Homo sapiens: one gene and its partners. The protein of the gene in region 1 interacts with the protein of each later gene in a biochemical or structural test. Each region holds a gene or a part of one and is shown in the gene's direction. Other genes may lie near its edges. The genes, in order: KPNA2, CHEK2, CSE1L and S100A2.

Evidence for each region.
Region 2: the proteins of KPNA2 (region 1) and CHEK2 form a complex in vitro, tested with the Homo sapiens proteins (one study listed by BioGRID).
Region 3: the proteins of KPNA2 (region 1) and CSE1L form a complex in vitro, tested with the Homo sapiens proteins (2 studies listed by BioGRID).
Region 4: the proteins of KPNA2 (region 1) and S100A2 form a complex in vitro, tested with the Homo sapiens proteins (one study listed by IntAct).

What each region holds. Positions count from the first base shown.
Region 1 is NC_000017.11:68,031,769-68,038,753, forward strand, and holds the start of KPNA2 (importin subunit alpha-1), read left to right. Parts: upstream 1-3,966; 5' UTR 3,967-4,072; exon of another isoform or gene 4,073-4,788; intron 4,789-5,341; 5' UTR 5,342-5,364; coding exon 5,365-5,439; intron 5,440-5,589; coding exon 5,590-5,727; intron 5,728-6,985.
Region 2 is NC_000022.11:28,738,821-28,746,136, reverse strand, and holds the start of CHEK2 (serine/threonine-protein kinase Chk2), read left to right. Parts: upstream 1-4,316; 5' UTR 4,317-4,368; intron 4,369-7,310; exon of another isoform or gene 7,311-7,316. Other genes in the region: iron-sulfur cluster co-chaperone protein HscB isoform 1 precursor, read right to left, coding at 129-273, 1,433-1,522, 2,159-2,255, 3,806-4,041. UniProt on the Homo sapiens protein: Serine/threonine-protein kinase which is required for checkpoint-mediated cell cycle arrest, activation of DNA repair and apoptosis in response to the presence of DNA double-strand breaks.
Region 3 is NC_000020.11:49,041,858-49,049,321, forward strand, and holds the start of CSE1L (exportin-2), read left to right. Parts: upstream 1-4,454; 5' UTR 4,455-4,566; intron 4,567-7,464. UniProt on the Homo sapiens protein: Export receptor for importin-alpha. Mediates importin-alpha re-export from the nucleus to the cytoplasm after import substrates (cargos) have been released into the nucleoplasm.
Region 4 is NC_000001.11:153,562,820-153,570,213, reverse strand, and holds the start of S100A2 (protein S100-A2), read left to right. Parts: upstream 1-4,369; 5' UTR 4,370-4,708; intron 4,709-6,326; 5' UTR 6,327-6,336; coding exon 6,337-6,480; intron 6,481-6,677; coding exon of another isoform or gene 6,678-6,799; intron 6,800-7,394. UniProt on the Homo sapiens protein: May function as calcium sensor and modulator, contributing to cellular calcium signaling. May function by interacting with other proteins, such as TPR-containing proteins, and indirectly play a role in many physiological processes.

The sequences.
Region 1 (6,985 bases):
AACATGCTTGGCTAATTTTTTATTTTTATTTATTTATTTTTTTAGACAGAGTGTCACTCTGTTGCTCAAGCTGGAGTGCAGTGGCACAATCTCAGCTCACTGCAACCTCTGCCCCTGCGTTCGAGCGATTCTTGTGCCTCAGCCTCCCGAGTAGCTGGGACTACAGGCACGAGCCACCGCGCTTGGCTAATTTTTGTATTTTCAGTAGAGACAGGGTTTTACCATGTTGGCTGGGCTGGTCTTGAACTCCTGACCTCAAGTGACCCACCTGCCTCGGCCTCCCAAAGTGTTGGGATTACAGGCGTTAGCCACTGCTCCCAGCCTCTGCTAATTTTTTTTTTTTTTTTAATTTTTGTAGAGATGGTGGTTTGGAGGAGGGCATCTCGCTATGTTGCCCAGGCTGGTGAATGGATATTAAGAACTGAATGTTTGCATCCCCCTCAAAAATTCATATGTTGAAAACCTAACTCCCAGTATGATAGTATTTGGAAATGGGGCCTCTGGGAGGTTGAGATGAATTCATGAGGGTGGGGCCCTCATGATGAGATTAGTGTCCTTATAAAAAGAGCCATCAGGCCGGGCGCAGTGGCTCATGCCTGTAATCCAAGCACTTTGGGAGGCTGAGGTGGGTGGATCATGAGGTCAGGAGTTCAAGACCAGCCTGGCCAACATGGTGAAACCCCATCTCTACTAAAAATACAAAAATGAGCCAGGTGTGGTGGCATGCACTTGTAATCCCAGTTACTTGGGAGGCTGAGGCAGGAAAATCACTTGAAACCAGGAAGCAGAGGTTGCAGTGAGCTGAGATCGCGCCATTGCACTCCAGCCTGGGTGACAGGGCGAGACTCCATCTAAAAAAAAAAAAAAAAGAAGAGACACCAGAGAGCTTTCACTCTCCCTTCTCTGTGCTAAAATGAAGAGATCATGCTAGCACACAATTAGGCGATGGTCATCTGGACGCCAAAGAGGGGGGCCCTTCCTGGAAACTGACCACTCTGGCACCCTTATTTCAGATTTCGTGATCCAGAAATGTGAGAAAAATAAATGTTTGTTATCTAAGCCTCCCAGCCTGTAGTACTTTGTTATGGTAACCTAAGCGGACTATGCTAGTGGACTAACACATCAGCTAAAACTTGGTCATAAATGATAGGACTTTTTTTTTTTTTTTTGAGACGGCGTCTTGCATTGTCGCCTGGGCTGTAGTGCAGTGGCACCATCTCAGCTTACTGCAACCTCTACCTCCCAGGTGTAAGTGATGCTTGTATCTTAGCCTCCTGAGTAGCTGGGACCACAGGTGTGTGTTACCACACCTGCCTAATTTTTTATATTTTTTAGTAGAGACAGGGTTTTGCCATGTTGGACAGGCTAGTCTTTTTTTTTGAAATGGAGTTTCGCTCTTGTTGTCCAGGCTGGAGTGCAATGGTGTGATCTCGGCTCACTGCAACCTCTGCCTCCCAGATTCAAGCAATTCTCCTGCCTCAGCCTCCCAAGTAGCTGGGGTTACAGGTGCTTGCCACCACGCCCAGCTAATTTTTTGTATGTTTTAGTAGAGACAGGGTTTCCCTTTGTTGGCCAGGCTGGTCTTGAACTCCTGACCTCAGGTGGTCTGCCCACCTCAGCCTCCCAAAGTGCTAGGATTACAGGTGTGAGCCACTGTGCCCGACGATATCGTATCTTTCAAAGGCAATTTTGGGCATTATACTTCTGTTTCAGGTTGTTTTTAGGTGCAAGTACAGAATAGTGGTTCAGAACACAGATCCTGGAACCAGACTGCTTATGGCTGAATCCTGTCTTTGCCATTTACTGGCTGTGTGACCCTGGAACAAGTTACATAAACACTTGTGATTCAGTGCTCTCTTTTGTGAAATAGAGCAAATAACAGTACTACCTCACAGTTGTGAAGATCAAGTGTATTAATATATGGTAAACACTCAGAACACTTCTGGGCACATAGTAGTCAGTATTTTCAAGCAAAAGAAACTCAACTTGGCTTGGTATGGTGGTCAGGCCTATAATTCCAGCACTTTGGGAGGCTGAGGTGGGTGGATTGCTTGAGCTCAGGACTTCGAGACCAGCTTGGGCAAAATAGTGAAACCCTGTCTTTACAAAAAATGCAAAAATTAGCTGGACGTGGTGGTGTGTACCTATAGTCCCAGCTATTTGGGAGGCTGAGGTGGGAGGATGGCTTCAGCCCAGGAGGCAGAGGTCGCAGTGAGCTGAGATCGTGCCACTCCACTCCAGCCTGGGCGACAGAGCTAGACCCTGTCTCAAAGAAAAGAAAAAAAAGAAAAAAAAAAAGAGAAGAAACTCAACTTGACAATACAAAAGAAATGTGTATCGGATCTCCTACCTGCAAACCTTCAGAGATAGAGCAGGTCAGACCTCTCAAGGTTTCCCTACAGTTTTCTTATTCAGATTTCTAGGACTCACATCCCTTAGTTCAGAAGAACAGAGGCTGCTTTCCTACCTCCAACCAGTAAACAAAAGGCAGAGGCTGTCCAACTGGATGAATTTAGGTCATGTGCCTGCCCCTGAACCATTCTCAGTAGCTGAGAGAATGCCACACAGTGATTGGTTTAGGGGTGAATTCCTTCCACATTCTTGCATTTAGGGGGATGGGATTATGCTGATTAAGAGTAGGTCCAACCCTTTATGAACTCTGGCTTTACGATGAATGAGGCTGGCATTAATGCCTGCAAAAATGGACAAACTTGCTGTTTGAATTTATTTATAGTAAGAAATAAACCATGAAAACTTTTCTAAAATGTAATCTTTTAGAACACAAAAAAATTGCAGAAACAAAAATGGCCCAGAATCCTGATGCTCTGTTGACCATCTTTGTTTTGTTTGTTCGTTTGAGCATATGGCAAAAAATGCAAAATTCAGAAATGTGTAATGAGCATAGAATGTTACTATAACAATTGAAAAAACTTGAACACACACTACATACTAAACAACAGCATGAAATTTCAGTTTTTCTGAATTTGATGACTGCAGTGTGGTTATATAAGAGAATGTCTTTTCTTAGGAGAGACACCGTGAAACAGAGGAAAAAGGACATGATTCTGAAACTTTCTCTTAAAGTAACATATTAAAATCACACATATGTACACGCGTGCATATGTATACATATATATGTATAGAGAAAGCAATAGCAAATGTGGCAAAATGTTAAGATTTGGCAAATCTGGATAAAGATTTGCAATTCTGCTGCATTTGAAATTATTTAAAAATAAAAAACTTGAGTTTTTGGAGAAACAGGCATAAGAAACCTTTTGTTTCCATATTTGCGGCTTCTATACAGTCTTTTATGATGCAATTAAAAAAAAACTAAACTAAAAAATATAACACAAATCTTCCCTCCCATAGTAGCCAGAAACCCCCGCCGAGTACTTTGGGTGTCATAATAGGAAAAAAATGCAAAGCAATATGTTTTTCTATAAAGATTACTTATTTACTAATTAGAATTTTTTTATTTTCATGAAGATCAACAACAAAGTTTTTAAAATAATGACTTAGAGAATCATTTTGTGGTATTTGTTTAAGGCTGTCGCCCAGGAAAACGCCCAAGGACCATGCACGCTTCAACCCTATGGAAACACGAACGGCCCAGGGAACCGCCCCTTCGCGCTGCTTGACGGGATCTGGAGTCCTCCCGCTCCGCCCCGCCAGGCGCTCAGGGACCGCCCGGCCGCTCCCTCACCGCCCGGCCGCTCCCTCACCGCCCGGCCGCTCCCTCACCGCCCGGCCGCTCCCTCACCGCCCGGCCGCTCCCTCATCTCGCGATGCCATCCTCTTTTTTTTTTTTTCTTTCCCCCCTCCCACTCGCCCCCAAGCCCTATGACTCCCTCCCCTCCCAACGTGTTTTTCAAATCCACCAATGGGCACACAGCTTAGGCTCGAACCAGCCAATCGGAATGCGGAGTCACCGGGAAATTTAAATCGCGCCGGCCGGCTGCACGAGCCACACGGTCTTTGAGCTGAGTCGAGGTGGACCCTTTGAACGCAGTCGCCCTACAGCCGCTGATTCCCCCCGCATCGCCTCCCGTGGAAGCCCAGGCCCGCTTCGCAGGTACAGACTCAGGCGGCGGCCCGGCCCGAGCGCTAACGGCTTGCCCGTGGGCGGCGTTCGCCTTTTGGGTTGGGGGAGGGAGGCCCCGGGTCCACGCCGAGCCTGGCTCTGCCTCCCGCGTTGACTAGGCCTCGGGGGCGACGTTCATTGACCAGGCGGCTGAGTTTCGCGGGGTCTGCGGGTTTAGGGCGCCGACGCTCTGCAAACGGCAGCGGAGGCCTTAACGCGTCGCGGCCGGGAGAATCGGAGCGAGCCAGGCTTGAGGGCGAATGTCCCGGGAGGACTTGTGGCGGCCCTGGTTTCGCCTCCTCCTTTCTCGTTGCATCTTCCCCGGCGTGGGGGCAGGGGCTGGGGGTGGCAGTTGGGAGCACCGTCTCTGACACCTAGGCCCCGGGGGTGGCTCTGCCACCAAGTCGTAGGCGAGCGTAATGAAAGCAAAGATAGCAAATTGTAAGGAGGGCTTTGACTTTTGTCATCTTCTGAATGACGCACAGCTGATGTCATCCTAATTAAGCGCATTCACTCCTAGTCTCTGGAAATGCAAATCAAATATGCGAGATGCGGCACTGCATTTTTAATGTTGACCATAATGTAATGATGAAGCAAATTTTTATTTAATTTTCGAGTCTGCACCTATTTTGGCCAAGTAAAGACAGTAAAATAGGGAGAGCCTCCTGAGGATCTGAATTTATTGCCCTGGCACATAATTTTTAGCTGTAAGTTGACTTGGTTCCCCTACTTTGTCTTGAATTAACTATTAGGGACTCTGGAGTATCGAACTAGGCTGTCAGAAACGGTGGATACATGTGGCTAGTCCAAATTGAAATACGCTGTAAGCTTAAAGTACACAAAAGATTTCAAAGATGGAGTATGGAAAAAGAATGTAGAAGATGTCAGTTATTTTATATATTGATAACACGTTGAAATACTATTTGGATATGTTGGGTTAAGTAAAATACATTATTAAAATTAGTTTCACTTGTTTCTTTTCTCCTTTTTAAAAATATGGCTACTAGGAAGTTTCAATTTATATAGCTTGCATTCTATTTCTGATGGAGAGCCCTCTCCAGGAAGTCTCAGCCCTTTAGAGGGAAGGGGGACACTTCCCCTTTGGGTAAAGCTATTTCATAGTGCCGAAAACATGATGATCCCCCCTCTAGTATACAGGTGTGGATTCAGTAGATGCTTGATAATTCAGTTCTTATTTGGTACTATTATTGACAAAGGAAAATGATAAAGGAAATATTTTTCTCTTCCCCCATCTTTTAGCTTTCTCCCTTTGTCTCATAACCATGTCCACCAACGAGAATGCTAATACACCAGCTGCCCGTCTTCACAGATTCAAGAACAAGGGAAAAGACAGTACAGTGAGTACCTTCTGTTGCTTTCCTGTGGTGGTATTTAAATGGGAAGACATTTGGAAAGGGGTGAAAACTGAGGTATTTAAAAAAAAAATGCCCTCACTTAGCAACAAAAACTGGTGTGATAGGTGAAACGGCATGTTATCTTTTCTCAAGGAAATGAGGCGTCGCAGAATAGAGGTCAATGTGGAGCTGAGGAAAGCTAAGAAGGATGACCAGATGCTGAAGAGGAGAAATGTAAGCTCATTTCCTGATGATGCTACTTCTCCGCTGCAGGAAAACCGCAACAACCAGGTAAAAAATGTATTTTAGTTTATGAGTTACGTGAAATCCAGAAAATCAGTAGGGACTTTTCTTAGAAATTCAAGTAAACTTAACATTTCTAGTCTTAACGGTTTTAACTATCTGTGAACATCTTTTTCTCTGTTTGCAATTAGTAATTGTCTTCTTTCCTGCCTTCTGTAATCCACTGAAGCTGATTTAGGATCTTCCTTTAGCTCTGACCTTCCTTCAGACTTCCCTGCATTTCTAGCTACTAGCTGGGTACCTTGGCCTGACCAGTGTGTCCAGAGCCAGCCAGTTTCTGGTTTATTTCTTCTTTTTTTTTTTTTTCCCCCGAGATGGAGTCTTGCTCTGTTGCTCAGGCTGGAGTGCAGCAGCACAATCGGCTCACTGCAACCTCTGCCTCATGGGTTCAAGCAATTCTCCTGCCACAGCCTCCTGAGTAGCTGGGATTATGGGTGCGCATCACCACGCTTGGCTAGTTTTTGTATTTTTTTGTTTTTGTTTCTTTGAGACAGAGTTTTGCTCTGTCGCCCAGGCTAGCGTGCAGTGGTGCGATCTCCGCTCACTGCAAGCTCCATCTCCCGGGTTCACGCCATTCTCCTGCCTCAGCCTCCTAAGTAGCTGGGACTACAGGCGCCCGCACCCTGTCTGGCTAATTTTTTGTATTTTTAGTAGAGACGGTGTTTCAACATGTTAGCCAGGATGGTCTCGATCTCCTGACCTCGTGATCCACCCGCCTCAGCCTCCCAAAGTGCTGGGATTACAGGCGTGAGCCACTGCCCGGCCTGTTTTTGTATTTTTAGTAGAGGCGGGGTTTCACCATGTTGGCCAGGCTAGTCTTGAACTCATGACCTCGTGATATGCCTGCCTTGGTCTCCAGAAGTGCTGGGATTACAAGCGTGAGCCACCAGGCCCTTCCCGTTTTTGGTTTATTTCTGCCTTTTTTGGTATTCTCTATGTTTTTGTATTTGTCACCAGCTTTGTTCAGGACTTTCCTTCTGAAATATTTACAGTAGCCTCCTAATTTATCATATCCTTCTTTATGCCATATACTATTTTCCTGAAATTTTTCCTGAAGTACTGCTTTAGACCTGTGTTTTCGCTCCTTAAAATCCATACTCCAAATTGCTTGAACCTGGGAGGTGGAGGTTGCAGTGAGCCAAGATCATGCCATTGCACTCCAGCCTGTGCAACAAGAGTGAAACTCCGTCTCAAGGAAAAAAATAAAAATAAAATAAATCCATACTCCAGCTGGGCATGGTGGTTC
Region 2 (7,316 bases), on another chromosome or scaffold:
AGTGCTGGGATTATAGGCGTGAGCCACTGCACCCGGGCCATTATATACTCTACGTTCATTTTTCACTAATCCTTGGACAAGTGTTCATAACAGCAATGAAATACATTCAGTGCTATTTTATCTTTCACCTTTGACAATGGATTCAATCTCTTTCATGGCAGCTTCACTTTCAGCTTCTGCGAGTTTTTCATTGATTTCCATTATTTCTATGAGGAATTGCCTGTCCATTTCATAATCTGTCCTTTCAGGAATCTCTATTCCATGGAGCTTTAGCTATTGGGGTAGAAAGCAAGAAAAATAAGTTGAAGAAGCTATGGGCAGAGTAATGTAAATCCTACTCATCCATTAGGAAATAATACCACTAATAGAGAAAACTGCAACTGTCCCGATAATGAAAGACTAAGGGGTATCAAAAGCTTGGACTGAAACAGAAATGCTGGAATGGGATTTCCACTCATGCTACCCAAAACTATGTGACCTTGGTGTGATCTTGGGGTAGTCATTCCTCCACTCAGAGGTTGAACTAGATGTTTGTAAAGATTCTATTCAATTATAAAATTTTCTAGATTGTAAGATACTTTTTTTTTTTTGAGATGAAGTCTCACTCTGTCGCCCAGGCTGGAGTGCAGTGGTGTGATCTCAGCTCACTGCAACCTCTGCCTCCTGGGGAAGCAATTCTCTGCCTCAGCCTCCCGAGTAGCTGGGATTACAGGCACCCGCCACCATGCCCGGCTAATTTTTTTGTATTTTTGGTAGAGGCGGGGTTTCACCATCTTGACCAGGCTGGTCTTGAACTCCTGACCTCGTGATCCACCCGCCTCGGCCTCCCAAAGTGCTGGGATTACAGGCGTGAGCCACCATGCCTGGCCTCTTAAGATACTCTGGAGAGGAAAAAAAAACAAAACAGAAAATGACTCTTAACTAAAAGCTACCATCATCAAATCCTTGAAATTCACAGAAAAAAGCTAGAAAATCACAATTTAAAAAATGCAGTTGAGGCAAGTAATATTCACAGAGAAAATTATACTTGTGCTCTGAGGCTAAATACTATTGGGTCCCTGGACTTTTTTTTTTTTTTTTTGAGAGGGTGCAGTAGTACAATCACAGCTCACTGCAGCCTTGACCTCTCAGGCTCAAGTGATCCTCCTGCTTCAGCTTCCAGAGTAGCTGGGACTACAGGTGTATGCCAACATGCCCAGCTAATTTTTGTATTTTTTGTAGAAATGGGGTGTCATCATGTTGCCCAGGATGGTCTTGAACTCCTGGGCTGAAGTGATCTGACCACCTCAGCCTCTGAAAGTTCTGGGATTACAGGTGTGAGCCACCATGCCTGACCTCAAGCACTCTTCTGCTGAATAAAGGGGACGTGGCTGTCCTACGCCATAATGGGCATCAGGACGTCATACACAGAAGTGTTGGGAAATCACCTTACAAGGTACAGTCCTCTGCTCAGGGGGGCCAGGAGGGTCTTATAGGCATCATTCACCAGGGTCGAATGCTTCTCTGAGAAGTCCTTTTCAGTCTGTTAGTGGAGATGAAGATAGTACTATTACCATCCAAATCACAAAGTTTTTTTGTTTTTGTTTTTGTTTTGACGTTGAGTCATCCAGGCTGGAGTGTGCAGTGGCGCGAACTCAGCTCACTGCAACCTCCACCTCCCACGTTCAAGTGATCCTCCTGCCTTAGCCTCCCAAGAAGCTGGGACTACAAGCATGTGTCACTGCACTGGGCTAATTTTTATATTTTTAGTAGAGACAGGGTTTCACCCTGTTGGCCAGGCTGGTCTTGAACTCCTGACTTCAAGTGATCTGCCTGCCTCGGCCTCCCAAAGTGTTGGGATTACAGGCGTGAGTCACTGTGCCAGGCCCACAAAGTTTTATAATATTCTAATGGGCAGGCACCTAAGGAAGTGGTTAAGTAGAGCTGGTGTGGGATGAGGTGTCTTTATATTCAGCTGATAGGTTTTAAGTTATCTGGGAAGTCAGACAAAAGCTGTGAGTGAATGGCAGCTCTGGGTCTGACAGGCTGGGGTCAGACTGCCATGGGGCAGACACAGCTGATTTTCCAGCTCAGTCCCTGATAATCACATAACCACAAGGCTACTGCCACCCAGTGTGCACACATATTTGGGGATTATTGGGGTTGGCCAATAAGCTACCTGAGACCTCTGGCTGAAGAAATCTGGGTGGACAAGACGCTGCAGTTGCTGGTACCTGTGCTGGAGCTTCGCTGTATCAACTCTGAAGGAACGGTTGCTGGAAGGAAATTGGGAGATTAAATTTATACAACAAATATTTAAAGGTTTATCTACCATGAGCCTGGTTCTTGCTCTTATGGGGAAGATGCAATAACATATAAGCAGTTAATTTCAAAAAGTGGTAAGTCCTATGAAGGGACACAGAACAGAGTCAGAGAGTGTAGCAGATGTAGTGGACAAAGAGATGACACTCAGCTGAAACCTGAATGATGATGAGTAATCAAAGATCAGAGGAAAGAGACGTCCAGGTAGAATTGCAAGAGCAAGGACCTCGAGGTGGGAGCAAGATGGGGATGCCTGAGGAACTTAAAGATCAGCGTTACTGTAGCCCCTCATACATGTTCAGTGACTGGTGGGGAAGATCCCATAGTTAAGGAAAAGGGACATTCCTAAATTACACAGACAAAGATTCTTTGCCTGGCCAAACTTTAGTCAGATTTCTGAACCTTCTCCTAGGCCCAGATGTATGCTTTCTTGTAAAATACAGTTTTGGCAAATAATCTTGCCAAGTCAGTTTAGCTAGAATCCTCGATCCTCATATTTTTGATCATCCTAGATCTCTGATCAGATTCTTCATCCTCTACTATCCCCCAGGTGGTGTCTAAGCAGCCTGGCCTGTCTTCAGCAAGAATCCCGTTAGGTCGGCTTAGCCAGAATCCCGTTTACTCTGCTCCTTGGCTACAAATTTCCTTCTGCCCATGCCCTTTTTGGAGTTGAGACCAATCTCTCTCCCCAACTGCAAGACCCTATTGCAGTGGCCCCTCTACAAGATGGTCTTGAAGAAAGTCTTTCTGGTGCTTGAACAAGTGTGACTGAATCATGTTTTCTTTAATACCACCCTAACTTTTCCACGGCCCAGGTCCCTTCATCCCTGTCTCTCCCGGTTTATTTTAATTCAGCCCCTTTCACATTCTACTCCCAGAGTCTGTCCTATTTCCTTACCAGTTCAGCTCTATCCACACTGCCCCGTCTCTCCAAGAACCTCAGTCTCAGGGGGAAAAACCATTTATTGGACCCTCTCCCTCCAATTCTCACTTTTCCCTCAGGCCTCGCCCACAATATTAAGCTTTTCATGCTTTACTCCCTAATCTCGGATCACACTTCTGCAGTCCTTTCTTAAATACATCAACCCAACTTTAAACCTTACTCACCCTATTCATTCAAGTCTTCCAGTCTCCCAGGCCCTGCCCCTCAAGTACCCTTTCCTCAAGTTCCGCCCCTCGACTTCTCCTTCCCTTTCCCGTAGGTACCGCCCCTCAAATCTCCCTCCCCTCTAGCCTCGGCCCCCCTATTTCCTCTAACTTCAGCGCCCGCCCCTCCAGTCCCGTTCGTCTCCCTTCTCCACACCTCAACGTTGCTTCCCTCAGTCCCCGCCTCTCAATTTCCTCCTGAGAAATCAAGACACTTCTCTCACGCCTGCTCTCTAGACCTCCGCCCCCCCATCAGTCCCGCCTTCTCTTCCGCCAGCCAGATCCGTCCTCCCCTCTCGCAGGCCAGACCTCGACGTGTCTCTCGCCCGGGCCCGTTTCCCGAAACCGTCGCTCGTACCAGTCCATAAGGCTGAAGTAGTCTCGAGTGGGGTCAGGTGCCTGCAGCGCTCGGCACTGTGGGCAGAAGAACCTGTCCTCCCGCCCGGGGCCCCATGGGCCGCCGCAGTTCCAACAGCGGGGATAATTGCTTCCCGCCTGCGACGCAGCATCGCAGCTTAGCGGTCTCCTTCTGGGAACCCCTGTCGGCCAAAACCCCCACACCCGGAGCAAAGCCCCGGCTCTCCCCCGCCACATCTGGCCGGCGGCCTATCTAGCCGTGGTCACTCGTGGGGAAAAGCAAAGAGAGCGTCTAACCAGACTAATGTTGCTGATTGGCTGGGGAGTCGAGGGGGCGGGATCACCCGAGGGGAACCCGGGTTCTAAGTTCCGCTCTCCCTTCTAAACTACAACTCCCAGGAGGCATTGAGGCGGCGCCTGACGGCCACATCTGCTGCTCCTCATTGGTCCGGCGGCAGGGGAGGGGGTTTTGATTGGCTGAGGGTGGAGTTTGTATCTGCAGGTTTAGCGCCACTCTGCTGGCTGAGGCTGCGGAGAGTGTGCGGCTCCAGGTGGGCTCACGCGGTGAGTCATATGGGGAACTTCTGTTGGGTGTTTGGTGGTTCGAATCCCATCTTAAGCGTTTTGTGCGAACGGAGTCTCCTGAGCTTCGCTTTGTCTGTAGTTTTGAGCTGAAGGGGGAGTGTGTGGGCGACTCTCTTCCTTTTCAGTAGATCATCCTCGAGGTGAAGTTCACTTCCCGTATTACTTGCAAGCTGAAACAGGCCTGAACATACAGGATAAGAAGAACAGCGTTGTATTCTTCAATATCAGAGCGAAGTGACTTCGTAAAAATTCTATAGATGTTAGAAATCGTTGCCATTCTTTAGGTTCAATCTATAAAATACTTATAGAGAAGCCAGTCTTAGCTACTGGGCGCTGCAGGGACTGGAAACGCACTGAGCTGTGTAGGAGGATGTTCTGCGTGTCCCTAAATAAGTCCCTAAGTAAATGTATGGGATAGGGTGGCCAGAAGTGGGTAGGAGGGCATCAGTCCTCCTTCGGACTTAGGTTTTCTGCTTGAAAAAAATATTGTGTTTCACTTGAAAGACCTCTGGAATTTTTAAAAAAAATTATTTATTTTTGATATAAAGTATACATATATGATTACCATCTGTACCTTTTTTTTTTTTTTTTTTTTTTTTGAGACGGAGTCTCTCTCTGTTGCCAGGCTGGAGTGCAGTGGCGCGATCTGGGCTCACTGCAACTTCTGCCTCCTGGGTTCAAGCGATTCTCCTGCCTCAGCCTCCTAAGTATCTGGGATTATAGGTACCCGCCACCATGCCCGGCTAGTATTTTTAGTAGAGACGAGGTTTCACCATGTTGGCCAGGCTGATCCCGAACTCCTGACCTCAGGTGATCCACCTGCCTTGGCCTCCCAAAGTGCTGGGATTACAGGTGTGAGCCACCGCGCCCGGCCTATTTTCAATTTTTTGAGGAATCACAATACTCTTCTCTATAGTGGCTATACTAATTTGCATTCCCACCAGTGGTGTATGTGAACAGTGCAAGGTCAGACATAACCAGGTCCATGCACATTTGTGTCTTTCCACAAGATCAGACTTATTGATGTTTTATTTTAATTGTAAAAGCCACGAGCTATATGGAGTTCCCAAGGAAGCAATTTTCCGTAGTACTCCCTGTTTACTTGGTGGTCAGAGCCATGGGCACACAGGCTCAAGCCATTCCACAAGTCAGTCAGTATTGTAAACCGTACACAATAGTATATTTATTTAATATGTAAATGTTATAGATTAAAAATCTTACATTAAAGTAACATTTAACATTCGGAGAAAAGGGGATAGGGAAAGTGGTTATCAAACCAGTCCAAGGAGAGCAATGTGGACAAAGAGAGTGTTTTGGCTTTATCTGGGGTGTCAGTGTCTTGTAAGGAAGAGTTTTTGATGCGGGCAGAGCCTTTGATGGCGGATACTGGGTGTTAATCATGAGTGACAGCAAGATGGTGTCTGTTAGGACAGCCATTTTGACCTAATAAAGTCCTGCTCTTATGACCAAAGAATTTTCTTGTGAGGACTAATAACAAAAGCGTGTACATATTTATATCCTTATCTGGTTTAGTACAGTGTTTTTTTTGAGACAGAGTCTCGCTTTGTCACCAGGCTGGAGTGCAGTGGTGCGATCTCGGCTCACTGCAACCTCCGACTCCCTGGTTCAAGCGATTCGCCTGCCTCAGCCTCCCGAGTAGCTGGGACTACAGGCACGCGCCACCATGCCCAGCTAAGTTTCGTATTTTTAGTAGAGTTGGGGTTTCACCATGTCGACCAGGATGGTCTCCATCTCCTGACCTTGTGATCCGCCCGCCTTGGCCTCCCAAAGTGCTGAGATTACAGGCGTGAGCCACTGTACATGGCCAGTACAGTCTTTATTAATTAGACAAACATCTGGTCCCTGTTGGCATAATGCCTTTTAAAATATAAGATAGAGCCTTTTTCTAAGATAAAATTACTTATGTCAAGAGCACTCTATACAGTTCCCCTTTCTGCACATTCTTTCCAGCATCTGTTTTGCCTATCTTTTATACAAACCATTTTAACTTGGGTGAGATGGTATCTCATTGTGGGTTTTTTTGTTTGTTTGTTTGTTTGAGACAGAGTCTTACTCTGTCGCCCAGGCTGGAATGCAGTGGCGCGATTTTGGCTCACTGCCTCCTCTGCCTCCCGGGTTCAAGAGATTCTCCTGCCTCAGCCTCCCAAGTAGCTGGGATTATAGACGCCTGCCACCATGCCCAGCTAATTTTCATATTTTTAGTGGAGACAGGTTTCACCATGTTGGCCAGGCTGGTCTCAAACTCCTGACCCCAAGTGATCTGCCCGCCTCCGCCTCCCAAAGTGCTGGGATTACAGGCATGAGCCACTGCACCCGGGCCTCACTGTAGTTTTGATTTATATTTCTCCAGTGATCAGTGATGTTGAGCATTTTTTTAATATACCTGTTGGCCATTTGTATGTCTTCTTTCGAGAAATGTCTTTTCGGATCTTTTGCCCATTTCTTTTTTTTGAGACAGAATCTCACTCTGTCACCTAGCCTCGAGTGCAGTGGTGCGATCTCGGCTCACTGCAACCTCCGTCTCCGTCTCCTGAGTTCAAGTGATTCTCGTGTCTCAGCCTACCAAGTAGCTGGGATTACAGGCACGGGCCACCATGCCCAGCTAATTTTTTGTATTTTTAGTAGAGATGTGGTTTTGCCATGTTGACCAGGCTGGTCTTGAACTCCTGACCTCAGATGATTCACCCACCTTGGCCTCCCAAAGTGCTGGGATTACAGATGTGAGGCACCGTGCCTGGCTTGCCCATTTCTTAAATTGGATTATTTGTCTTTCTGCAGTTGAGTTTCATCTCCTTATATATTCTGGTTATTCATCCCTTGTCAGATGGCTAGTTTGGAAATGTTTTTTCCCATTCTGTGGGTTGTCTCTTCACTTTGTTGATTGTTTCCTTGGCTGTGCAGAAGCT
Region 3 (7,464 bases), on another chromosome or scaffold:
GCAACCTCTGCCTCCTGGGTTCAAGCAATTCTCCTGCCTCAGCCTCCCAAATAGCTGGGATTATAGGCACACAGTACCACGCCCGGCTAATTTTCATATTTTTAGTAGAGATGGGGTTTCACCATGTTGATCAGGCTAGTCTCAAACGTGTAGATTTTTATAACATATAAACATATATTTAAACAGAAATAAGCCAGGTGCAGTGGCTCACGCCTGTAATCCCAGCATTTTGGGAGGCCAAGGTGGGCAGATCACCTGAGGTCAGGTCAAGACCAGCCTGGCCAACATGGTGAAACCATCTCTACTAAAAATACAAAAATTAGCTGAGTGTGGTAGTGGGCGCCTGTAGTCCCAGCTACTTGGGAGGCTGAGGCAGGAGAATTGCTTGAACCTGGGAGGCGGAGGTTGTAGTAAGCCAAAATCGCGCCACTGTACTGTACAGCCTGGGCAACAGAGTGAGATTCCATCTCAAAAAAAAAAAAAAAAATTAAAGTGCCTCCATTTTAAAAAAGATAAGAAACAACAATCAGATACTTCTCAATGTTTAGCTGTTAACACTCTTCTGCATCTCAGTTGGGCTTTAAAAGCGAGATTGAGACATAAGACTTGTTCTTTCCCAGCATAACCAGATGTGTCCACGCCCTTCTGGATCCAAATAAAATGTAAAGTTATCTTCCTCAAGGAGCACACCATAGACAATGTGTCTTTTCAGAATGTCTTTCCTTACATTAGACAGATTGGGGTTTTTTTTGTTTTTGCGCGGGGGGACAGAATCTTGCTTTGTCGCCCAGGCTGGAGTGCAGTGGTGCGACCTCAGCTCACTGCAACCTCTACCTCCCAGGTTCAAGTGATTCTCCTGCCTCAGCCTCCCAAGTAGCTGGGATTACAGGCACCCACCACCACACCCGGCTAATTTTTGTATTTTTAGTAGAGATGGGGTTTCACAATGTTGGCCAGACTGGTCTCGAACTCCTGACCTCGGGTGACCCATCCTGTCCTCCCAAAGTGTTGGGATTACAGGCGTGAGCCACCATGCCCAACCTAGACAGATTGTTTTATAAGGGTTTAGAAAGAAAGGAAACTACATGAATGAGTACTTAGTCTCCTGCTCCTTGAAGTGGATGAATTGTTTTCTTTGGTTTCCAACACAGTCTGTTAAGAGTTGTAGCACGCCCCAAGAGTATGTGCATGTAGTGGAGCTGGGATGGGGAGGATTCCCAAGGGAATCTTTAGCTGTCACCCATGAACCATGCAGAGTGGAGAAGGACACTCAGCCTTTCTGTGGCTCTCACCTGCATGATTATTCTGGTGGCTGCAAAGGGCGATAGGCAGTAGGAGGAGACACCCCGTGACACCAAGAGCTGTGTCCAGACATGATCGTCTTGGCACAGCTTGAGGGTTTTCTACAGAAACTGGTAGAGATGCTAGACAGACACAAGATGCCAGCCAGCCTCCTTTGCGATTGGCTCTTAGAGGTGGAAAATGGTAAAGTCATCAGGCTCATTCTCCCTAGGACTAGAGGAACATGTTAATTATATTAAAGTAGATTAGTGGGCCGGGTGTGGTGGCTCACGCTTGTAATCCCAGCACTTTGGGAGGCCGAGGCGGGCGGATCATGAGGTCAGGAGATCAAGACCATCCTGGCTAACACGGTGAAACCCTGTCTCTACTAAGAATACAAAAAATTAGCTGGGCATGGTGGCGGGCGCCTGTAGTCCCAGCTGCTCGGGAGGCTGAGGCAGGAAAATGGCGTGAACCCAGGAGGTGGAGTTTGCAGTGAGCCGAGATCGCACCACTGCACTCCAGCTTGGGCAACAGTGTGAGACTCCGTCTCAAAAAAAAAAAAAAATGCAGATTAGAACGATTAAAATGATTACTGGTGATTACTGGTACTATTGCTGCAATAGTAAAAATACATCTTTTTCACCAATGTCTTTGTTTTTTTTTAAAATGTTCCACCGTCTTCTGACCATCATGGTTTATTTTTATTTTTATTTTATTTATTTATTTATTTTTTTAAGACACAGTCTCGCTGTCACCCAGGCTGGAGTGCAGTGGCTCGATCTCGGCTCACTGCAGCCTCTGCCTCCCAGGTTCAAGCGATTCTCCTGCCTCAGCCTCCTGAGTAGCTGGGACTACAGGCGCATGCCACCACATCTGGCTAATTTTTGTATTTTTGTAGAGACAGGGTTTTACCATGTTGGCCAGGATGGTCTCGATCTCCTGACCTCATGATCCGCCTGCCTCAGCCTTCCAAAGTGCTGGGATTACAGGCATGAGCCACCGTGCCCGGCCTCACCAATGTCTTTCACTCATGTATCTTTCTCCATGGACTTCACTTATTTATATATGGCATTTCATTCAACATGCAACAAACATTTATTAAGCAGCTACTGTGTGCCTAGTGCTGGGGGTACAGCTGTGAATACCATCAATATGGGGCTAGATGTGGTGGCTCACACCTGTAATCCCGGGGCTTTTTTTTTTTTTGAGATGGAGTTTCGCTCTTGTTGCCCAGGCTGGAGTGCAATGGCAAGATCTCAGCTCACCGCAACCTCTGCCTCCCGGGTTCAAACGACTCTCCTGCCTCAGCCTCCCAAGTAGCTGGGATTGCAGACGTGCGCCACCACACCCGGCTAATTTTGTATTTTTAGTAGAGACGGGGTTTCTCCATGTTGGTCAGGTCTCAAACTCCCAATCTCAGGTGATCTGCCTGCCTCGGTCTCCCAAATCACTGGGATTACCGGCGTGAGCCACCATGCCCAGCCCTATCCCAGTGCTTTAGGAGGCGGAGGTGGGAGGATCACTTGAGGCCAGGAGTTTGCCTGGGCAACATAGTGAGAGCTCATCTCTACAAAAAAATTCAAAATTAGCCAGGTGTGGTGGCAGGTGCCTGTAGTCCTAGCTACTCAGGAGGCTGAGGTGGGAGGATTGCTTTAGCCTAGGAGGTCGAGGTTGCAATGAGCTATGATTGTGCCATTGCACTGCAGCCTGGGTGACAGAGCAAGACCCTGCCTCTTAAAAGAAAAAAAAAAAAAAAAAAAAAGCCCTGGCCAGGCGTGGTGGCTCATGCCTGTAATCCCAGCACTTTGGGAGGCCAAGGCTGGCGGATCACAAGGTCAGGAGTTCAAGATCAGCCTGGCCAATATGGTGAAACCCCGTGTCTACTAAAAATACAAAAATCAGCGGGGCATGGTGGCGGGCACCTGTAGTCCCAGTAACTTGGGGGGCTGAGTCAGGAAAATTGCTTGAACCTGGGAGGCAGAGGTTGCAGTGAGCTGTGACAGCACCACTGCACTCCAGCCCTCCAGCCTGGGCGACAGAGCAAGACTCTGTCTTTAAAAAAAAAAAAAAAAAAGAAAAGCCCTTGCTGTATAGAATCCCTTAGGTTATGGATGGGGAGGAGGGCAGGGGTTTAGGAGGGGAGAAGCGGAAGGAGGAACAAAATAAAGAAGAGACAATTAGTTGGAGAGTGATAAATACCATAATGATATCATGGAACTAGGCTTACCAGATCAAACACTGGGCACCCAGTTCAATGTGAATTTCAGATAAGCAATGCATGATTTTTAAGTATAAATATGTCCTACACAGTATTTATACTAGAAAATTATAAATTTTTTTCTAAAATTTACATTGACCTGGGCAGCCTGCATTTTATTTGCTAAACCTGGCAACCCTAATTTGTGTGCTGGGTGGTGGTGAGTGGGCAATTTCAGATAGGCCTCTTTTGTGGAGGTGACATTTGAGCTGGAACCTAAATGTAAAGAAGGAGCCAATCATTCAGGAATCTAGAACATCCCAGCACAGGGAACAGCAAGTATAAATGCTCTAAAGTGGAAATAAGCTTGGAGCTTAGAGGAACAGGAAGAAGGTGGGGTGGCGGAGCTGAGTGAGGGTGAGGAGAGGAGGGAAGCGGAAGGTGATGAGGGCAGGCAGGCTGGCAGGGGCCAGATCCCATATGGTTTGTGGGCTGTAATAAGAGTACCAAAACTTACATACCAGGCCAGGCGCGGTGGCTCACGCCTGGAATCCCAGCATTTTGGGAGGCCAAGGTGTGCGGATCACTTGAGGCCAGGAGTTCGAGACCTGTCTGGCCGTGTCTCCCTCTAAAATAGAAGCTCCAAGAGGGGCAGGAAGTTCTCTTCCGTCTTAGACCCTATGTGCACGACCTTGGATCGATCAACATTGAACACCTCCTACGTGCCAAGCCCTGACATCAAAATGGGTCAGAAGCCAGCAGCCGCTCGCTGAATCTGTGTTCCTCTTTGGAAAACGAGAACCGTGAAGCCTGCTGGCATGGTCAGAGCCAAAGAGCATTGTCACTTGTGAGATCAGCGCAGAAACAGAGCGGGGCCCCGATTGGCCCTTCGAACTTGGGTGGGGCCAGAGCATTCCTGGCCCCGCCCCCTGCAGCGGGCCGCTCGCTCATGCGCTCTGGCCTCAGGCTCGCTGTCGCGCCATTTTGCCGGGGTTTGAATGTGAGGCGGAGCGGCGGCAGGAGCGGGTAGTGCCAGCTACGGTCCGCGGCTGGGGTTCCCTCCTCCGTTTCTGTATCCCCACGAGGTGAGGCGCGGGGCGTGCACGGCCTACCAGAGTGGCTCTTGGGGCCCAGCTGAGGAAGGGATGAGGCGCTCCCGGTACTAACGAGCGCTAGGGAGTGAGAACCGCGCCTCTGGGCGAGAGCGGAATGTGGGCCCGGGGTTCGGGTGGTGCGCTCAGGCAAGGTCTTCGGCTTCCCTAGGGAGCGCTTGCCGCGCCTCGCGGCATCCTAGGTCTCTGGCCCAGGTGCGGCGACCCCAGGGCCTGTGAGGGCTGAGGGCAACTGAGGCGCGGCCTAACGCGAGCCTGCGGATTGCCCGCCCTTTCCTCTCCATCACGGCGCTGATTGGCTGCGCCGCCGCCTCTCCGCTCGGGAAGGCCGCTCCTTATTGGTCGCGCTCGCATGTCCATTCTCTGCGACGGTGGCTGCTAGCCGCGCGAGCTGAGTGTGCGGCGGCGAGGCCTGCCCGGGCGGGGACTGCGGGCGCGTGGAGCTGCGGCTGCCTCGCGTCGTCCCTTGCCCTAACTCTAGTGAAGCCCCCGAACTCACCCTTCTCTAACCTCTGTACTTGTATCCCTGACTGTAAAACGGGCATCGTGATCTCACTTTGCTGAATTGTTTGTGAGAATTCTAGTCGGTACACCCGGGACATAGAAATCCCCTGTAACGCGGGTTGGGGGAGGGTTCCCTCGTTTTGGGAGAAACGCTGTGCTGTGGTGGTTCGGAGCATAGACTTTGGAATTAGATCGCCTGGGTTCATTCCAGACGTAGCCTCTCGTTAGGGGTGTAACTTGAGGCTGGTCACCTCATCTCACTGAGCCTCCATTTCCTTAGCTGCAAAATGGGGTTAATAACAGAATCTACCTCGGAAAGTGGCTTTGAGGATGCGCTGAGTTATTTACCGTGGTTTACAAAGGTTCCCTGGGAGCTGACGGTTGTTTATTCATCTCTCCCACCCATCTTTCTCCTTAGCCAGTGTGGCTTTCTGTTTCTTCCATATTCCAGGGTTATTCCGATTTAAAATTATTTGCACATGCCTTTTGTTTGCTGGGGAAGTACCAACATTTTTGCAAGGCAGGCCGCCTCTCCCAAGTTTCCCTCACCTTAGGCCTCCCCTAACCAACCTCTTCTTTTGTTTTCTTTTTCTTTTTCTTTTCTCTTTTCTTTTTTTTTTTTTTTTTTTTTTTTTTTTGAGAGAGAGAGTCTCGCTCTGCCTCCCAGGCTGGAGTGCAGTGGCGCGATCTCGACTCACTGCAACCTCCGCCTCCCGGATTCAAGCGATTCTCCTGCCTCAGCCTCCCGAATAGCTGAGACTACAGGTCTGAGACTACACGCCACCACACCCGGCTAATTTTTGTATTTTTATTAGAGACGGGGTTTCACCATGTTGATCAGGCTGTCTAATCAACCTGTCTAGGACCTTTCTCCCATGGCTCTCCATCAACATCACCTGGTTTTAGTTACTTCATAGCATTTACTAACACTTACTTATTGCTTACTTGTTATCTTTCTCAACTGCTAGAATGTAAGCTGTTTGAGAGCAAGGACCTTGTCTGTCTTGCTTACTTCTCTCTCCCTGGTGGGTGCCATCCCACCTGTGCTTGCCACATGGTAGATGCACAAGTATTATTCTTCCTTGGAGGCACAGAAGGGGACCCTTTAGTCTTGGATTCCACCAATTGCTCTTTTTCTCACCTTGGGCCCACATAGTCATATCTTTGGCCTTTCTCTGTGTGTGTCTCTCTCTTTTTTTTTTTTTTTTTTGACATGCTTTCAGAGGATCCTAATGGACCTCGTCTCTCCGCTCCTACAACCCTTTATCTTTCACTTCTTACCATCAGTGCAAGGGAAGTCTCTCTCCCCTTCTGATTACTTCTGCTGGTTGGGGTCTGGGACAGGATTGGATGGATGCAAGAGCAGTGCTCTAGTTTTGGAATTAATTTGTTTCTTTATTCATTTAATAACTTTATTGAGCATCCACTTAATCTCTGGGAATATAGTGAAAAAACAAAAATGGACAAGGTCCCTTCCCTTGAGGACCATGTATTCTCGTGGGCGAAAGAAAAAACATTAGATAATTTCAGATAGTGACAGAATTATGTGACAGGTGAAGAAGGCTTTTCTGAGGAGGTGACATTTGGGTAGAGACCAGCCATTAAAAGGTGAGGGGCAGAACATTCCAGGTAGAGGGAATAGAAGGCTCAAGGCTCAAGGACAGGAACCGGCTTGGAATATTGAAATATTTAAGGAATATCTTAGGTTCCTAGAGTGTTACATGAAGAAGGGAGAAATATCCAGGACCCGGATCATAGAAGGCTTTGTAGGCAATGTAAGGAGTTTGGATTTGATTCTAAGTGGTATATTCCTATGGTTAGAAAGCAGAGGGTAGGTTGAGGTGTTGGGATATGTTCTTCATGTGTGGGTGCCAGATAGTTTTCATTCATTGGATCTCTTTCCCTCTTCCCAAATGTAAGGCCTCGGGAATGGTTCTCTAATGTGTTGAGGACATATCTAAGAAAAAGGCAGACATCTTGGATCAGCTTATGTCACAGATGTCTGTGAGATGGCTTTGGAAAACAAAGCTTTTATTCCAGAAATCTCCACCTGTAATTGAGGGCCTGTGGGAAGATGCTAGACTTAGGTCTGGCCATTCATTCAACAAGAAGAACTTGGAAATTTAGATGTCTGCCATAACTGATTTATTGTGATGCTTTTTTAAGTTTCTTAATTGTGTATTGGTAGAGATTTCCAAAGATAGTTACGTGGAGAAAGAAAAGTATCACCCCCTCATTTAAAGGTGATAAAAATGAATTCTTATCTTCTCCCTCCCTTTTTTTTTTGGAGACACCATCTCACTGTGTTGCCTGGGCTGACCTGGGCTCAGTCTATCCTCCTACCTCAGCCTCCCGAGTAGCTAGGAC
Region 4 (7,394 bases), on another chromosome or scaffold:
GCCGAGGCAGGAGGATTGCTTGAGCTCAAGAGTTCAAGACCCGTCTGGGCAAGATGGCAAAACTCCATCACCACAAAAGATGCAAAAAGATGCGCACAGTGGCGCACACCTATAGCCCCAGTTACTGAGGAGGTTAATGTGGGAGGATCACATGAGGCTGCAGTGAGCTGTGATGGTGCCACTGTACTCCAGCCTTGGCGACAGTGAGTCTATGTCTCAAATAAGTAAGTAAACAAAAATTAAAAAGAATCCAGTCCACAGGGCATTTGAAGGCAAGAGGAAAAGATGCCAGAATCAGAGATGGGGAGAAGATGGGCTTCTGGCGCCTGCTGAGGTTGAGAAATGAGACAGATAGGCTGAGTGTGGGGTGGAGAGAGGATGGGCAGAGAGACTGAGGCTGGTCTGAATGGAAATGAAATGTTAGGGCTCTCAGGGTTATCGGGGAATAATTGGAGCTTCTAGGAAAGGTTTAACGTTGTGACCACCTGTGTTCGTCATGCCTCCCCACCCCTTACTAATTGTGTGAATTTGGCAGACTTTGAGTCTCAGTGTTCTCCTCTGTGAAGTGGGGTCATCTTATTCCAACTCCTGGGATTGTTGTGTGAATTAAATGGGGTAATGTACGGAGAGCACCTGACGCACAGCGAGTGCTTCAAAATTTCAGTCTGCACCCCCCAGCAAAGGATATGCACACGCCCATTGTGAGTGACAAATCCAGGATGACCTGAACCCAATGTGATAACGTGGGTCCTCGCATGCTGGTCATGCTGCCGGGAGACACTTATGGATCCAATTAGTACAACAGGGGAAATAAATTATTTAATGCATTTTGCTAAGACAGAATACCTCAGAACTTATTTTGTGGGGCGGGGCATAATAAAGGGGGTCCTTCTGCTGAAAACGTTTAAGCTCAGGTTCGTGGCACCACTCAACCAAGGTCGACAGTCACACAGTAAGCCAGAGGCAATGTCAGGACTTAAACTAAACCTGTGGCCCCCACAATGAGGCCATTTCTCTTTCCCCTGAACGGCCTGGGGAAAGGGGGTGGGTGGGCAGAACTTGGCAGTGGCCAATCCCTCACTTCTGTCCCCTGGTTTTCTCCTGCCCTTATCTCTAGGCTTGCATTGATTGATTGATTGAGACAGGGTCTTGCTCTGTCGTCCAGGCTGGAGTGCAGTGGCACGATCATGGCTCACTGCAGCCTCAAACTCCTAGGCTCAAGTGGTCTTTCCGCCTCCTATCTCCCGAGTACCCATATCCCTAGGCTTTTAAAATGGCTTCCAGGTATCTGGCTGCCGTCTCAGACATCCACCTGGGCTTCTGGGCAGGGACTGTCCGGGAAACCTCATCTATGTGAAGCAGGTGTGGGTGTAGGAAGGCCGCTTGGAAATGAATCAGCACTGTCTCCTGTTTGAGTCGTAAGCAGGGCGCCAGAGGGTCTGGCGGACAAGAAAGGGAGGATGACAGGAGGCCGGCACTGCAATGACACGCCTTAGCCACCAGAGGGCACGAAGCAGCTGGGCAAAATCCCGCGGGGCCGCTGGTGGAAAATTTCTGGCACCTGGAGCCCGGAGATGGGGTGGACGGAATGTGAGGACCCAGCTTCCTGAGGCTGGGCCGGGGCAGAGTCACTGCTTTGGATGTCCGCAGGGCCTGCTTGTGTCTTGACTACTCTGCCTTTGTAGACAGCTGGAGAATGTGAGAGTGGGATTGGGATCGGACTCTAGGGGCCATTCCGTACAACTCTCCTGCCCTGCCGTGGGGGAGGGAGTTGCCCAAGGTTACGCAGCAAGTTAGTGGCAAATGAATACGATTATCACCAGTCTCAGGTATATGGCCATTTGATGGGCGCAGTCGCAGCCTCAGTTCCTGAGACAGAGACACCTGATTAAGGACAGGCCTTCAGGAGCTGACCCTAGTGACCCGCGGCTCTGCTGCTGTCTCTGTTTTTCTCCCTGGCTTTTCCATCTGACTGACTCTTTGTCTTCTTCGTCTGCCTGCCTGTCTCCGTCTCTGCCCGCTGGGGGGTTTGCTCAACTCCCTCACTGGGTCCTGGGAGCCGCAGTTTCCTGCTGTCACTCCTCAGGGATTTGTAGCTCTCTGAAGCTCTTTTCCGACCCGTTGTCTCGGTTCCACTCTTGGGATCCAGAGGAGAGGTGATTATTTCGTAGCATAGTCAGTGGTGTGATTTCACGGGGTGAGAAGGACTCCCTTGCTCCTAAGCACTCCTCCAGTGACCCCTGTTGCCATGTGGTAGCCGTAAGCACTGGTTGGCACCTGGTGTGGGCGAGACCCTTACCTCATGCAGAAATGAGTAAGACCGGTGAGCTCACCATGTGGGGGTGAGGCTGAGAGAAAACAAGTACACAGGTGATTCAGTCAAAATCAGAATTCTCTAAGTACACACGAAAAGGGCAAAAGGGGCGCTTTGTACAGGACAGAACAGGTAGACACTGAATCCGGTTGGGCCCTGGGAAGGCTCCCTGCAGTGGCCTTTGAAGGGGGGGTTGGATTTCAGCAGGATAGAGGGCATGGGCATGTGTGGGCACGTTCTGAACAGAGGGGTCAGCGCAAGCCGAGGGTCTTGGCCACACTAGTTGCATGTGCCGGTGTGTTTAAGGGACACGCAGCAGCAGGCCGAGTCTGGAGCGCCTCACTGCCAGGCTTTTTAAAAATTTTTAATTTTAATTTAATTTTATTTTATTTTTACTTTAAGTTCTGGCATACATGTGCAGAATGTGGTTTGTTACATAGGTATACATGTGCCATGGTGGTTTGCTGCACCTATCAACCCATCATCTAGGTTTTAAGCCCCGCATGCATCAGGTATTAGTCCTAATGCTCTCCCTCCCCTTGCCCCCATCCTTCTCCCCGCAACTGCCCACAGGCCCTGGTATGTGGTGTTCCCTTCCCTGTGTCCATATGTTCTCATTGTTCAACTCCCACTTATGAGTGAGAACATACCGCCTGGCTTTAAGGGACAGCCATGGGGATGCACTGCAGTTTCTGAGCAGGGAAGGCCCTGTGGAGGCCCTTAGTTAAAAGGAAAGAATGGCTGTGAAAATCGATGCATTGCGCTCCCTTGTCCCTCACCCTCAGTGTGAAGGGTTTTTATTCCGAGTTCTACTTGAAGTAGGCCTCGATGGGAAGACAAGTAGCATGAGGGGTTCAAGTACTGAGGGGAGCAAGGGACACTCGGTGGCTGTGCCAAGGTGTAGAAGAGGACACTGGGGGCCCCAAGGCCTGACTTCATGTACACTGCTCAGGCTGGCCCCCAAGTCACACGGTGACCGCTAGGAAGGGACCAGCCTGTTCTCAGTCTGATCCTCCTGCCATGTCATTATCCAAAGCTCCTCCTGGCAGGGCCTGTTTGGGGTCTCTGTGCCAGTGCTTTCCCTGCCAGGCTGGGCTGGGGCTTCCACCTACTGCTCTGGGACTGCTGCTGCCCTGGCCCTGGGGGAGGAGGGTGTGCCGCTGAGTCACTGCCTGGGCATCTGGGCCTGGAACCTCGGGTGAGTCACTTAGGGCTGAGGTAGAGGGGCTGGGGGAGGGGAAGAAGCTACTCGACAGCTGGAGCAGGGAGGGGAGCTGGGGCCACAGGAAGGGCGGTGCCCTGATGCCCAGACGGGCCGGGATAGACAAAGGGCCAAGGAGGAAGGGGCCCTGGGAGGGGGCAGCCCTCCCTTGGGCTGGGCTCTGAATGGCCACAGTGTTTGCCTTTCTCCGGGTCTGGGGAGGACATGTGTGTGGGGGGCAGTGAGAGAGGGCTGTGGCTGAGGGCTGTGCTTCAGGCCTGGATTCTGGCTTGGGAAGCTGTCCAGCTGGTGTTTTCAGCCTTGGGTAGGGATGTACCCCTACCCACCCACCCAGCCCTCAAGCTGGAGAAGAGGAGGCCAAAGTTTTCCTGTTCAGCCTTTAACTACTCGGGACTTCCTTATGCTCCCCACAGACTGTGGCCCAGCCCAACTGCGGCTGTGTGTAGAGCAACCCCATTTCTCACTGCTTCCCCATCCTTCCAGACACCTTCCTACACAGAGGGACCTTCCCAGGTATTTCTAAGCACACTTAGTTACCTCATTACCTCATTAAGAGGTATTCTGGTGCTGGCCATTAAAAGTCACTCCACTTCATCCATGCCCTGAAGTCAGTCCTGTCCTTCTCCTCCTGATGTCCCCCAGCTGCCTCCTCTGGCCCCCAGCTTCCTAAGGGTGGCCCCAGGTTGCTTCTCTCTCACACACACGGGCGCATGTATGTACACGAGCACTGGACCATGAAGTCTCAGCGTGTGCTCACAGCCTCTCACACAGGAGTGGGCTGTGACTCACAGGCATGTCATGAGAATGAGGCCTGGCACCAGTCTCCAGGCCCCAGAGCAGGGGTTGCCTCCCCTCACCCCGGTCCAGGATGCCCAGTCCCCACGACACCTCCCACTTCCCACTGTGGCCTGGGTGGGCTCAGGGGCTGCCCTTGACCTGGCCTAGAGCCCTCCCCCAGCTGGTGGTGGAGCTGGCACTCTCTGGGAGGGAGGGGGCTGGGAGGGAATGAGTGGGAATGGCAAGAGGCCAGGGTTTGGTGGGATCAGGTTGAGGCAGGTTTGGTTTCCTTAAAATGCCAAGTTGGGGGCCAGTGGGGCCCACATATAAATCCTCACCCTGGGAGCCTGGCTGCCTTGCTCTCCTTCCTGGGTCTGTCTCTGCCACCTGGTCTGGTGAGTACCTCTGTCCTGCTGAGGGCAGGGTGGGGAGGATCCCCGTGGGTCTCTGTCTTTGTCTCCACAGTTCTCTCATTCCAGCTTCCCTGGTGGGATCAACCTGGGCCTCTCTGGGCCTTCCCCCTTGGAAGAACTCTCTGTGAAGTGCTGAAGTGTTGACTGAAGGGTTTTTTTTTTTTTTTTTTTTTTTTGAGATGGAGTCTCGCTCTGTCGCCCAGGCTGGAGTACAGTGGTGTGATCTCAGCTCACTGCAAACTCCCCCTCCCAGGTTCACGCCATTCTCCTGCCTCAGCCTCCCGAGTAGCTGGGACTGCAGGCGCCCACCACCATGCCCGGCTAATTTTTTTGTATTTTTAGTAGAGATGGGGTTTCACCATGTTAGCCAGGATGGTCTCGATCTCCTGATCTCGTGATCCACCCATCTCGGCCTCCCAAAGTGCTGGGATTACAGGAGTAAGCCACCGCGCCCGGCCGACTGAAGGGTTTTTCTCCAGGTTCCTCTGTGAGGTCTCAGTGCAGGGGTTGCTCTGAGGCCCTCCCCTGGATATCTCAGTCTAGGGGCCCTTCTTTGGGGGTCTAGGCCTAGGAGCAGGAGGTGTGCATGTGGGCGTTGCTGCAAAAAGAATCCTGAGATTTTTTTTTTTTTTTGCAAAGTCCTGGATTCTAGCAGGACTAAGGTGCAAGAGGCAGGGGTCTCAAGACTCTGCCTGGGTCATGGCCCCAAGCAGCAAAGCTCTGCCCCCTGCCTCGGTGAAGGCAGGGCTGGCATGATGGGCCCAGGGCATGCCCTGCCTCTGGCATAGCTCCTCTGGCCTCACCCTGAAACCTGCCTAACCTTTCCAGGCTGGTCTGAGTATTCTCAGAGGCCTTGCCGCTGAGGTCTGTCCCATCCTGATCCCAAGGCAATGAACATTTCATATCTTTAATTCTAATTCCAACAGGATCCTTCCTGGTGGAGAGAATGTTAAGTTGCCCCCACCCTATCCATGCCCCTGTCTGCCTAGAGGCTCAGGGGCCTTCAGGGTGAGGGGAGACACATTCCCCACCCTCTGGGAGCTCCTAGTCTGAGAGAGGAAACACTCCTGCCCAAGGGAGCTTCCAGTTAGATGGCAGAGAGAGATGCCTCTGGCTTCAGGAGTCCCGAGTCTAAGGAGGGAAACGACTCCTTCAGGGAGCTTCCTGCTCCTAGGCTGTAGCCATGGCTCCTGCCAGACTGCACAGGAGCCCCCATCTGCCAGCCGGTGCATGTGGCCCTGCTCCCCAGAGCCTGCGCAGATGCCATCAAAATGGGACTCTGGTCACCCTGTCATTTCCCTTCTGGCAGACACTAAAATGGGGAGCCCTGCCCTCAGGGGGGTGTCCCAAGTGCCATCAGAGGAGGCTTGGTGACTCCCAGACACAAGGGAAGCTTTAGCGTCTGCCCTCAGGGTGAGATGGAGGTATCGCCTCCGGCCTCAGGGAACCACAGTCTGAGGGGGAGATGCAGCCCCTGCCTTCCCATTCAGAGAGGGGTTTTGTGAGGTGGCTTGGGGGCATAGGGCAGAAGTGGATCCTACAGGCTGAGCTAAGGCCCCAAGAGCCTCAGCAGTGTACCCATCACCTGGCACCTCTGCAGCCACAGATCCATGATGTGCAGTTCTCTGGAGCAGGCGCTGGCTGTGCTGGTCACTACCTTCCACAAGTACTCCTGCCAAGAGGGCGACAAGTTCAAGCTGAGTAAGGGGGAAATGAAGGAACTTCTGCACAAGGAGCTGCCCAGCTTTGTGGGGGTGAGTGGCACAGGCCTGTGGGGGAGGTCCTGGTGTGAGTGTGGGGGTGCAGGTTAAATCTCTCCCCCAGTTCCGGGTGCCTGTCGATGCAGGTGCCAGGGTGGGGCCCAGCCCCCTCCCCACTTTAGCTTCATGGCTCCACTGGAGTGGAAATGAGGCCCGAGTGGGAGTGCTTAATTAATGGCTGTTTCCTGCAGCATTCCAGAGAACCATGTGCTGTGAGGGCCTTCCGAGTCCATCTGTTTAATCCTGTCATTGGAGACTTGAGAAACCAGAGCCCAGAAGGGAAAAGTGATTGTCCCAAGATCACACAGCACTGGCACGTTCTCTCTCTCTCTTTTCTTTTCTTTTTTTTTTTTTTGAGATGGAGTTTCCCTCTTGTTGCCCAGGCTGGAGTGCAATGGCACGATCTCGGCTCACTGCAACCTCTGCCTCCAGGGGTCAAGCAATTCTCCTGTCTCAGCCTCCTGAGTAGCTGGGACTACAGGCGCATCCCACTACGCCCAGCTAATTTTTGTATTTTTAGTAGAGACAGGGTTTCACCATATTGGCCAGGCTGGTCTCGAACTCCTGACCTCGTGATCTACCTGCCTCGGCTTCCCAAAGTGATTTTTGTATTTTTAGTAGAGACGGGGTTTCATCATATTGGTCAGGCTGGTCTCGAACTCCTGACCTCAGGTGATCTGCCCTCCTCGGCCTCTGAAAGTGCTGGGCTTACAGGCGTGAGCCACCGTGCCCGGACTCCTTTTTTTTTTTTTTTTTTTGTGGTGGGGGGACAAGATCTCACTCTGTCACCCAGGCTGGATCATAGCTCACTGTAATCTCGAACTCCTGGGCTCAAGCAATCCTCCCAAGTAGTTGGAACTACAGGAGTATTGTCACCATGCCTGGCCAATTTTTATTTTTGTAGAGAT